2 separate regions of the Homo sapiens genome follow, and region 1 is linked to region 2. Evidence: fine-mapped expression QTL. A gene starts in region 2. The other region holds a variant in brackets. All regions are shown on one strand. Distances are between the middles of the regions.

The links. PIP is the estimated chance that this variant, and not a neighbour inherited with it, causes the effect. A credible set is the group of variants that fine-mapping cannot tell apart.
Region 1: its variant is the best candidate, but not a certain one, in a credible set for the expression of LINC02728 in whole blood (INTERVAL, PIP 0.67).

Annotation. Positions count from the first base shown.
Region 1 is chr11:78,359,697-78,365,083 of GRCh38, reverse strand. All of the region lies in intron 1 of GAB2 (GRB2 associated binding protein 2), which reads left to right. Among named protein-coding and RNA genes, the nearest start is that of GAB2, 55 kb to the left of the region's middle. The variant A/G (reference allele first, on the strand shown) is at 2,595.
Region 2 is chr11:78,426,780-78,432,166 of GRCh38, reverse strand. It overlaps LINC02728 (long intergenic non-protein coding RNA 2728), which reads left to right and starts at 2,331. Exons shown (of 4, transcript NR_120564.1): 1 at 2,331-2,467; 2 at 4,637-4,858. RefSeq lists an enhancer at 4,853-5,052.

The sequences.
Region 1 (5,387 bases), 67 kb after region 2:
GTGACAGGTACACTAAAATCTCAGAAGTCACCACTAAAGATCTTATTCATGTAACCAAATAACACCTGTTCCCCAAAACCCTGTTGAAATAAAAAAAATGACTGCAGCCATTCCCACCCTTGTATTTCAAGCATAGCATTGCCACCTACTTGCAAAATACTATATAGACGTATATATATATATTTTTAAAAAGGTGCTATTACCTGGGAAGCTTTTCCCAACATTACATATGTCCAAATCTCACTCTGTATCTACTGAATCTTCTGATATCAGTAGATATGTAGTAAATATGTATAGTTTGGGGAAAATTTCTCAGGAAAGTTTGATAAAATCCCTGGTTTATGCTTTTTTGAAGAACTTAAACACATATAGCAAACTCAAGGCCTATCACAGCATTTGCTATCATAGTTGTTAGTAATATGTTTGGAGAGGAATTTGGGGGGATGGCTATTAAGTGAGAAGCTAGAGGTAGAATAACCACTGCAAGCAATAAGCATTTTACAAAATGGGGATTGAGCTCTATTCGTAGGTGATGAAATCAATGGTAATGAGTTGCTACCAGTATTTTCAAAGTAAAATAGTATACAAAAAGTAGCATGTATTGTGTCCAGTTAAGGATATTTATTGAAACTTTTAAGTTCATTGTATTTATAGATACTGTGCTACAATTTAAAAGACATTTCTTACTGAATTTTTGTCAAAATCCATTGACCTAGATAGGAATCTGTATTGGAGTAAAGATGGTTCTAAGGGGAAGGAGTGTAGAGAAGCAATGTGGGAGCCACATGCGGTGGTTCATGCCTATATTCTCAGTACTTTGGGAGGCGGAGGTGGGAGGATAGCTTGAGGCCAGGAATTCCAGAAGCAATGTGGAAAGGACACTAGGGAATGTAGGTTCTAGTCTTTATCCAAGCTCTTTGACTTCAAGCAAATCACATTTTTCTCCTGGACCTTACATTCTTTTTTCTCATTGCCCTTAGTACCTTCTGTCTGACTTCAACCCCACATCTGCTTGACAAGAATTAACTCAAATATCTCTTCTTAACACCTACCTGATTCTGGCATACAGTAAGTGCTTATAAATATATGTTAAATGGGTGAGAACCTTTCCCTTAGGTCTGTGGGTACTTTCACTGGGCTTGTATATCTACCACTCCATTTAAAACTCTACTTACAGCTTTTTAAGAAAATGTATTTCTAAGCCAGGCACAGTGGCTCATGCCTACATTTCCAGCAGTTTGGGAGGCTGAGGTGGGTGGATTTTGTGCTTGGAAATTCGAGACCAGTCTAGGCAACGTGGCAAAACCCCATCTCTACAAAAAATACAAAAATTAGCAGGGTCATAGTAGTGCGTGCCTATAGTCCCAACTACTTGGGAGGCTGAAGTGAGAGGATTGCCTAAGCCTGGGAGGTGAAGACTGCAGTGAGCTGTGGGTGTCCCACTGCACTTCAGCCTTGGCAACAAAGTGAGACCCTGTCTCAAAAAAAAAAAAAAAAGAAAATATATTTCTATTTATCTTTTACTAGGTTGTGGTCCCCTGGAAAGCAGACATTTTTATTCATCTGTGTATTCTCAGTACTTAACACAGTACCTGGTATGTAATAGGTGCTTCATAGATGTTGGAGAGAATACATATTTTTAAGAGGAGTATTTTAGTAGATGACTCATAAAACATTTATTGAGCACCTACTATATACCAGGCAGTGTGGTAGGTATGGGAAGTGATACAAATGTGTGTAAGAGACCAACATCTTCCCTTGAGGAATTTAGAGATTAATTGAAGCATAAGCACACAGAATTGCTGACAAAGCCATTAGTGTTAGTCTCTAGCTATGTGGTTGCTTATGCAGCTCATGTGTAACTTCTCATTTCTGTGTTTGAATACTGGTCACCAGAACCAGACAGGAAGAATGTCTTTCCGTTCTGATTAATTTTCTTAGGAATTAAGTAAGAAATTGTGTATCTGATATGGTGATCTAGTTCCAAGGAAGGTTAACTTGAGTTGGCAAAAGGAGCCTCATCTTTTTTATATTAGTTACTGGGAGGTTGTTTAAAAATCTCCCATTATGTAATGGACTTGTCACTTTCTACTTATAGTAATGGCAATTCTTGCTTTATATATTTCGAGGCCATATTACTAGGTACACATACTTTTTAGAAGTACATGACTTCTGGGCCTTTGAACCTCTTATCTTTGTGAAGTGCCTGACCCTCTTTGCCTTTTTACCTTAATATCTTTTTTTGCTTGGTAGTCATATACCTGCAGCAGCATTCTTTTGAGTAATGTATATGCTTTATGTAATTTTTTCCATCCTTTGATTTCAACCTACCTGTGCTCTTGTATTTTAGGTGTATCTTTAAAAAACAGTATGTAGCTAGATTATGTTTTTGTTTAGTCTGGAAAGTCTTTCTTTTAACTTGAGAATTTAGTTAATTCACATTTATTGTGGTTAATACAGTGAGACAGGCTTTATCTTTTAAATGGTGAATTAAATTGATTTACATTTATTGTGATTATGGAAATGTTTTGATTTGTTGCAACCGTGTAGTGTTGTACCTTACCTTACACTGAAATTTTCTGTTGTTTTTTTTA[A/G]TCTTACCTTTTGGATTGAACATTTTGTTTCCTTTTTCTAATTTCCTTTTTATCCCTCTGCTTATTTGGAAGTTACACTCTAACTACTTCATTAGAAGTTACTCTAGGTATTTTATTATGCATACTTATTAAAATGTTTAAATTTAATAGATAATACATGCACATGGCTTAAACACAAAATATTTGAAAAGTATACTGTGAGAAGTCTCTTCTCTATCCTTCTGCCACCATCTGCTCATTTCTAATAACCTGGTGTATTTATCTTTATAATGTATGTTGGCCTGTTAACATATTAGATATGTTAGAATATATCTAATAGAGATTATAAATACGCATACAAATACGTATTAACTCCTCCATTTATACAAATAAAGGACAACTTTCTCTATACTTGCTTTTTTTTTTTTTACTTCATAATATATCTTGATGCTCTTTCCATATTGATACATGAACAGTTTTCTTCCCCATGCCTTTTTAAAAAGCAGCTGAGTGGTAGTACATCAATTGGTGAAGGCATAACTAAGTCTTTACTGATGAGCATTTACATTGTTTTCAATATTACTCTTTTAAATAGATCCCAAAATGCACATATGTCATTGTGCACATGTTAGTTTATCTCTAGGATAAGTTTCTGGCATTGCCTGGTTAAAGGATATATACTCTTACACTTTTGGTAGATTATATGTAATTTTGCCACATTGCTCTCCAGAGGGTTTGTAACTATTTACACTCCTGCCTCTTTTTCCACAGTCTTGCCAAGATGATTACCAAAGTTCTGTATGTTTGCCAGTCTAATGAGAGAAAAGTAATATTTAAGTGTATTTTTAATTTGTATTCCTTTTGTAAGTCAACATTGATCTTTTCACATGTTTAAAAATCATTTATAGTTATTTGTCTGTGAACATTTGCTTATTTTTCTGCAGGGTTAATGTTCTTACTGATTTGTAGGAGCTCTTTATGTAGGAGATTAGCCCTTTGTAATAGGAATTGTGAATTTTAGCGAAATATTTATGACTTCTAACCCAAGTTACCATTTTTTTCCTTGCTTTGTCCATAGGCATTTGTGTGGGTGTGGGGGGGTGTGTCCGTGTTGCCATGCAGGATTTGAAAATAGTTTTCATTTTTAGATTTATAGGTTTCTGTGTAGTCACTATAACAATCATTGTTATGGTTTCTGGATTTTAGGTAATAGACTTTCCCTCTTATAGGCTATAAAAGAAATGTACTATGTTTTATAATTTCATTTTATATTACATTTAAATCTGATCCAGTTGGAATTTTTCCTGATCTATGCTTAGAGGTACAGGTTCAACTTTGTTTCAGCTTTATTTTTAACAGTGTCATTAAATCTTTCCCATGGATTTGAGGTGCTACTTCTATCATAATCTAAGCATTTTATGCATTAGTAACCATTTGTGAACTCACTAAGTATTAAATTCCATTAGTCTGTATACTTATAAAATATATATAGCAATACGCTTTGTTTTGATTAATGAGGTGTGTTTTACCATATGGTTGTAATAGTGTCCTCTGCTATTCTTGTTTTTCTTTATGAACTTTACAATTGTATTCTCTTATTTAGAACAAATATGGTGGGTTTTTTGTTGTTGTTGTTGTTGTTGTTTTTCTTTGAGACGAAGTTTTGCTCTGTTGCCCAGGTTGGACTGCAGTGACAAGATCTTGGCTCACTGCAACTGCCGCCTCCTAAGTTCAAGCGATTCTCCAGCCTCAGCCTCCTGAGTAGCTGGGATTAACAGGGACATGCTACCACCCCCAGCTAATTTTTGTATTTTTAGTACAGACAGGTTTTCGCCATGTTGGCCAGGCTGGTCTCAAACTCCTGACCTCAGGCGATCCACCTGCCTCAGCCTCCCAAAGTGCTGTGATTACAGGCATGAGCCACCACACCTGGCCAAAAAAATGGTGTTTTTACTGAGTTTATGTTAAATTAATAAATTCATTTAGGGAGATTTGAGCTCTTTATCAGCACATACATTTTAATTTTTTAATTTGGCCTAAAGTATAGCAGTATATTTACTCTCTGTATTAGTTTCTTTTTTCTTTCCTCCTCCTCTTCTTCTTTTTTTTTTTTTTAAATACAGAAACAGGGCTTCGTCATATTGTCCAGGCTGGTCTCAAGTACTGTGCCAGCTTTGGCCTCCCAAAATGCTAGGATCACAGGCTTGAGCTATCATGCCAGGCCCTTAGTAGTTTCTTGTAGTTGCTGTAACAAATGACTACAAATTTGTTGGCTTAAGACAATAGAGATTTATCGTCTTACAGTTCAGGAGAGAATAAATCCAGGTGTTACAGCGCTGTGTTCCTTCTGAAAGCACTGGGGAAAATCTTTTGCCTCTTTTGGCTTCCGGTGGCTCCAGATGTTCCTTGGTTCATGGTTGCATCACTCCAATCTCTGCCCATGGTCACACTGTCTCTTCCTCCTCTCTCTTCTGTCCCTCTGTCTGTTCTTCCTCTATCTCTGTCTTATATGGATACATATGATTACATTTAGAGTTTCCCTGAATTCTCCAAGAGAAGTGCTGCCTATGAATATTATCTTATATGGCCTAAGGGTCTGAGACCTTTAACTTAATCACATTTTATGTCATATAAGGTAATATTCACAGGTTCCAGGGATTAGGACATGGGCATATCTTTTGGGAAGGGACCATTCAACGCACTACACCCTTCTTCCAAATCATGTAAGAATCTTAGCATACCTAAACTTGAATCACTCCTCCTAACTTATGTTATTGTTGGCCGGTATTTTCTATCTTATTTATTTATACCCAC
Region 2 (5,387 bases):
CATAAATGGAGTCCAGCGAATTTCTAGCCATTATCAGCACACTGGATAGTTTCTGGGGGACCTTTATAAAGAAGACACCAGGAGTTTAGGTGGTTTTTAAACTGTCATTCAGGCAGCTGGTCATTGAATTAACATAGCTCATGACTTTTCAAAAATTTTCTGCTATACCTTTACTGTTCATAATTGTTACTAATAACATGACTATTATTTAGGCATTGCTTTACAGTTCACAAACATGTTTCATGTATCTTATTTTCTTAGTTATCAAGACAATACATTGTGGACTTTGTTCCTTTGTATCTTACTGGTCATGAAATTTATTTGGTTTATTTGTTATAAAAATTCAAAGTTCCTTTTGGGAGGCCAAGGCCGGCAGATCACAAGGTCAGGAGATTGAGACCATCCTGGCTAACACGGTGAAACCCTGTCTCTACAAAAAAAAAAAAAAAAAAAAAAAAAAAAAAATTAGCCGGGTGTGGTGGCAGGCGCCTGTAGTCCCAGCTTACTCAGGAGGCTGAGGCAGGAGAATGGCATGAACCCGGGAGGCGGAACTTGCAGTCAGCCGAGATCACACCACTGCACTCCAGCCTAGGCAAAAGAGCGAGACTCTGTCTCAAAAAAAAAAAAAAAAAAAATCGAAAGTTCCTAATACTGAGAGAAAGACTGCAAATAAAATTCACTGCCCTCAGCTTCCAGAGAAACCAAAAAACATAAAACCTAATAACCAAAGAATCTTGCATCTTAAGCCCCAGAGTTTACTGAATGTGTCGCAAAATACTCACCTTGACCTTGTTCTACCCAGGGTGAAGGGACAGGAGAATGTGAAGGAAGATGATGTTTGATCTCAAATACATTGGAGTAAAGAGAAACACTAAAAATGGGGTAAAGGATCCTAGACCCAGCAATGTACTTAAGCTCATTGTGCCTCAATTTGTTATCAGTTTATACTCACATTTGCCACCTTCCTTTTAGGATCATCTTTGAATTGTGGATAGAAAGATACATGAAAGAAACTTTGATAGGAATTATTAATATCTTCCTCGAAGTCACAGACCTTTGATTTTTCAAGGTAATAATCTGAAAATAGATACATGGTGAGCCTGTGTAACAAAGGTTTTTTTTCTGCAACAGGTGCCCATGTACACAGCTGGAACTGTATTTTGCCGAACCTGAGCCATCTACAACTGTGATTCTTTGATTCATAACTTTCTCTACACACTAGCTCAATAAGAATTGCTGGTTTGCCATTTTCCTAGGAACCTAGTTTTGAAAAATCTTGGAAAGAAGATAATTCTTCCCGTTTATGATATATGAACTACTCCCCTCTGTATTTCTCCTGATTCCTAGTAATTTACCTATTGTAGCTTCACTGAATAGGAACTCACTATCTTAATAGAGATCTTTTATTTATTTATTTATTTATTTATTTATTTAGAGACAGGGTCTTACTCTCTCACTCAGGCTAGAGTGCAGTGACGTGATCACAGCTCACTGCAGCCTCAGCCTCCCAGGCTCAAGTGATCCTTCTGCCTCAGCCTCCCACGTAGCTGGGACCACAGGCACAAGCCACCACACCCAGCTAATTTTTGTATTTTTTGTAGAGACAGGGTTTTGCCATGTTGCCCAGGCTGGTCTTGAACTCCTGGGCTCAAGCAGTCCTCCCACTTTGGCCTCTGAAAGGGCAGGGATTACAGGCATGAGCCACTGTGCCTAGCCTTATTTTTTGGAAACGGTCTTGCTTTGTCGCTCAGGCTTAAGTGCAGTGATGTGTACATGGCTCAATGCAGCCTCGACCTCCTGGGCCCAAGCAATCCTCAGCCTCCCATGTAGCTGGGATCACAGGTATGTGCCACCACATCTAGCTAATTTTTTATAGAGACAGGGTCTCACTTTGTTGCCCAGGCTGGTCTTAAACTCATGGGCTCAAGTAGTCCGCTTCCCTCAGCCTCCCAAAGTGCTGGGATTACAAGTTTGAGCCACCACACCCAGCCAAGAAGTTTTTCTCTCCTCAGAGAGCTCTGGTTGTTAGAAACTTCTACCTGAGAATAAGGAAACCTGTCTCTCTGTATCATGCAAATGGAATAAAATAGAAACACAACTCCTCCTGTTTTCCAGTATAGAACCTCTAACTGCTCAGGTGGACTGTCTGTCCTTCCCTGAAGTGCTGCACCCCTCTGTTATTCATCAGGTCGTGTGTCCTTATAATGGGCATTTCTATTGGTACATAAAAGCTTCCCTCTCCTGTTCACTCAGCTGCTACCCAAGTTTCCTGTGATACCAATCTTAGAAGAGCTTTCAAGTCTCCACTGCCTCCTTCCTATCTGCCTTACAGCCTGTGGTGGTTGCCGAAGAACTTTAATTACAGTGTCAGAGTGTTCAGGGACAGTCCCAACTCCCTTCATGTGAGGATTGCAGAAATGGGCTTGGATCGTATACAGACAGCGTTATGAGGCATTGCTGAAGAACAGTAAGTTCTTACACAGAAGTTGTCAACTAATATATGCATTTTCTTTGCCATACCCCAAGAGGCAGGAGCTGATTCCTATATAGTTAGGATATAGCTGACCAATGTTCTCTTTAAATGTAATTTCCATCTGCCACATTTTAAATTACAGGTTTTTGCATCAGGAAACTGTTGGGTCCAATTATTTGGTGCCTTGGAAAGGGCATTAAATGCATAGTGAGAAGATCCTGGTTTAATCTGACATTCCACTTACTAGGTGTAGAAGCTTGAGCAAGTTAATTAATCTTTGAGTCTGTATACCCAGCTGCAAAATGAGGATAATGCTTATCTTACAGAGTGTTGTGAAAGCAATGAAGATTGTGTGAAAGGGTTTCATAAACTGACAAGCACTGCACAAATGTAAGGTCCCCTAAGGAAAACCTTTTCAAAACTCAAAATCTATATGAACAGAGATACTTATTCATGTTGGGTGGAATGTTTTACAGCCATTAAAAATTGTAAGAGAAAATATATTGAAAAATACAATCTAAAATGGTGAGTTTGCAATTACAACAGTGTAAAACCTGTGTACATAGACTAGAATATGGAAAAAATGGATTACAGGGTAGTGGAATTGAGTGACTTTTGCTTTAAAGACTCTTAGGTATATTAGGTGTATTCAGTTTAGTTCAATAAACTTTTATTGAGCTCTCACTCTCCCAATCCCCGTGCTAGATTCTATGAGTGCTGAGACAAATAGGACATACTCCCTGCTCTCAGAGACTCCCATTCTGTACAGTCTTGTCAAAGTTTACTGTGTATGTGAATCACTGCGGAGCGTATTAAAAATTCACATTATCTTACTCCCACCAGAAGATCTGATTCAGTAGGTCTGTGATGGAACTAGCTCACAATTTACATTGTTTTAAACAGTCACCCTGAGTAATTCTAGTGTAAGTATTTTAATTCTGTACTGAGAAACCTGCAGTGAGATTTTAATATTTTTACACTAAACGGTAAGTAATAATTATACAAATCTGCTCATTGAAGAAGTTACCTGTTTTCTCTGCATGCTTGAGCTGGTTTTTATGTGTCTCTATCAAGGATGGGAAGGCCAGCCTGCAGTGATACCCCTTGGAACCCTTGCAGTGTAGAAACTACCACACCTCTCAACTTTTATCTCTTTTCCTCACTCCATTTCTCCCCACCACTTCTCCTAATGTTTTCTTCTTTCTATGCAAGTGTTAATCTCCCACTCTGGTTCCTTCTATGCCTAGTACTGTATCAACATCCAGGTGCTTCCCCTTCCTTTCTCCACCCCACCCCCCAGCCAGATATGTCAATTGTATTGAAAACAACTTACATCTAGTTTACTAAGTACAAACTTGTGCTGGTTAATGCTTCTCAAAAAGTAGGAGTGGGCTGTTTGTTGAGATCAACAATCATTTTTTTAAAAATCCGATATGGAAATTTTTGTGTCAAGTTTCACTGTCATTTAGTTCTTGACTGATTTTCTTCTGATGGGTTAGTAGCTCTCAACAGAAGATTTTAAAAGTCCCCTGCTCAGGTACCTGTCCTGCCGATAGAGCTGGGGTGTACCCTGCACCCTGACTCAACATTGCTTGTCTCCACATGCCTGTAAATGGGCTTGGGTGGCTTTCTCAGGCTACACACCTGTCACTTCTTAGTCACCCAGAATCAAAATATTAACAGCTCTGATCACATTTTCTGAACCTATGAGGCTTTATTTCAAGAGTGGTGACACTCCAAAATGCAGCTAGGATTTCCGCATTTTCACGTGTTAGTGTTGAAATCATTTTTACTTCAGGAAACCAAGGGTTGGACAATGGCTTCCAGACTTTCTCCTTTCGTTATGCTCCTTCAGCGCCTTATGCAAATACCGGTTGTCTTATGCTGCCATTCGTCTCCTCTGCCAGAATGTGAGGTCCGCGACAGCAGGGATAAGAATGCATTCATTTTTATATCTGCAGTGCCTTGGAGAGTGTCTGACACATAGTGGGCACTCATTTAGAAACCACCAATTGAATCATTAAGGTGACCAAAAACAGGGTGGGGGAAATACGTCCATCAGACAACAGGGAAATATTTCTTAAAAAAAAAATTTCCCAAAACTAGCTTTTCCCTCCTTATGTGTCTGAAATATCTCATAAAATTTTAAACTATCCCTTTCAGCACAAATCTGCCTGGAGCTGTTTCCTGAACACAGGACCAAAAGGCAGGAATCAAAAGTAGTAATGAGTTTAGTTATCTGTCTGTTACTGAAGGTGACTTCTAGGGCATCCTCCTGGCATTGCTTCTGGAATACAGTGACTTAGACTTATTCGGAAGAACATCTCTATGCTGTTCATCACATCGCCAGCACCTAGCCCTGTGCCTGTGCATAGTAAATGCTCAGTAAGTATTGTTGAATGATTGTATTAAATTGAGAAGAAATTCAGAAGCTAGTCCCAAATGAATTTAATTGCTCAGATTTTCAGTTAGTGGTTTTCCCCAACTTGCTCCCTTAATCTAGACAATTTTACTGCCTCCAAATTGAAGGTAGCTACTATTTATGTCATCGAATTTAACAAATGTTAACTTATGTCTATTCTGTGCCTATCTGTGGGCTACCCAAAATTAAACCTAACCTCATGTAGTTTCAGTCCCCATACAGTTGGTTCATAATTCTCAGTGCTCCCACAGTCCTTTGAACATACCTCTTATAACATTGCCCAAATACTACTGGAGATACCTGCCTATTTCTCTCCCCAGAAAGACCCTGAAATTCTGAAGAACCTAGTCTTATCTTGGTATTCCTATGCTGAACTTGAAGTAGTAGGTTCTCAGAAAATCCCTGCTGAGACTTGACTAACTTGTACATAAATAACCATTCCCTAGTAACATGTGTTTGAATAGAAATATATTTTGTATTTGAATAGAAAGA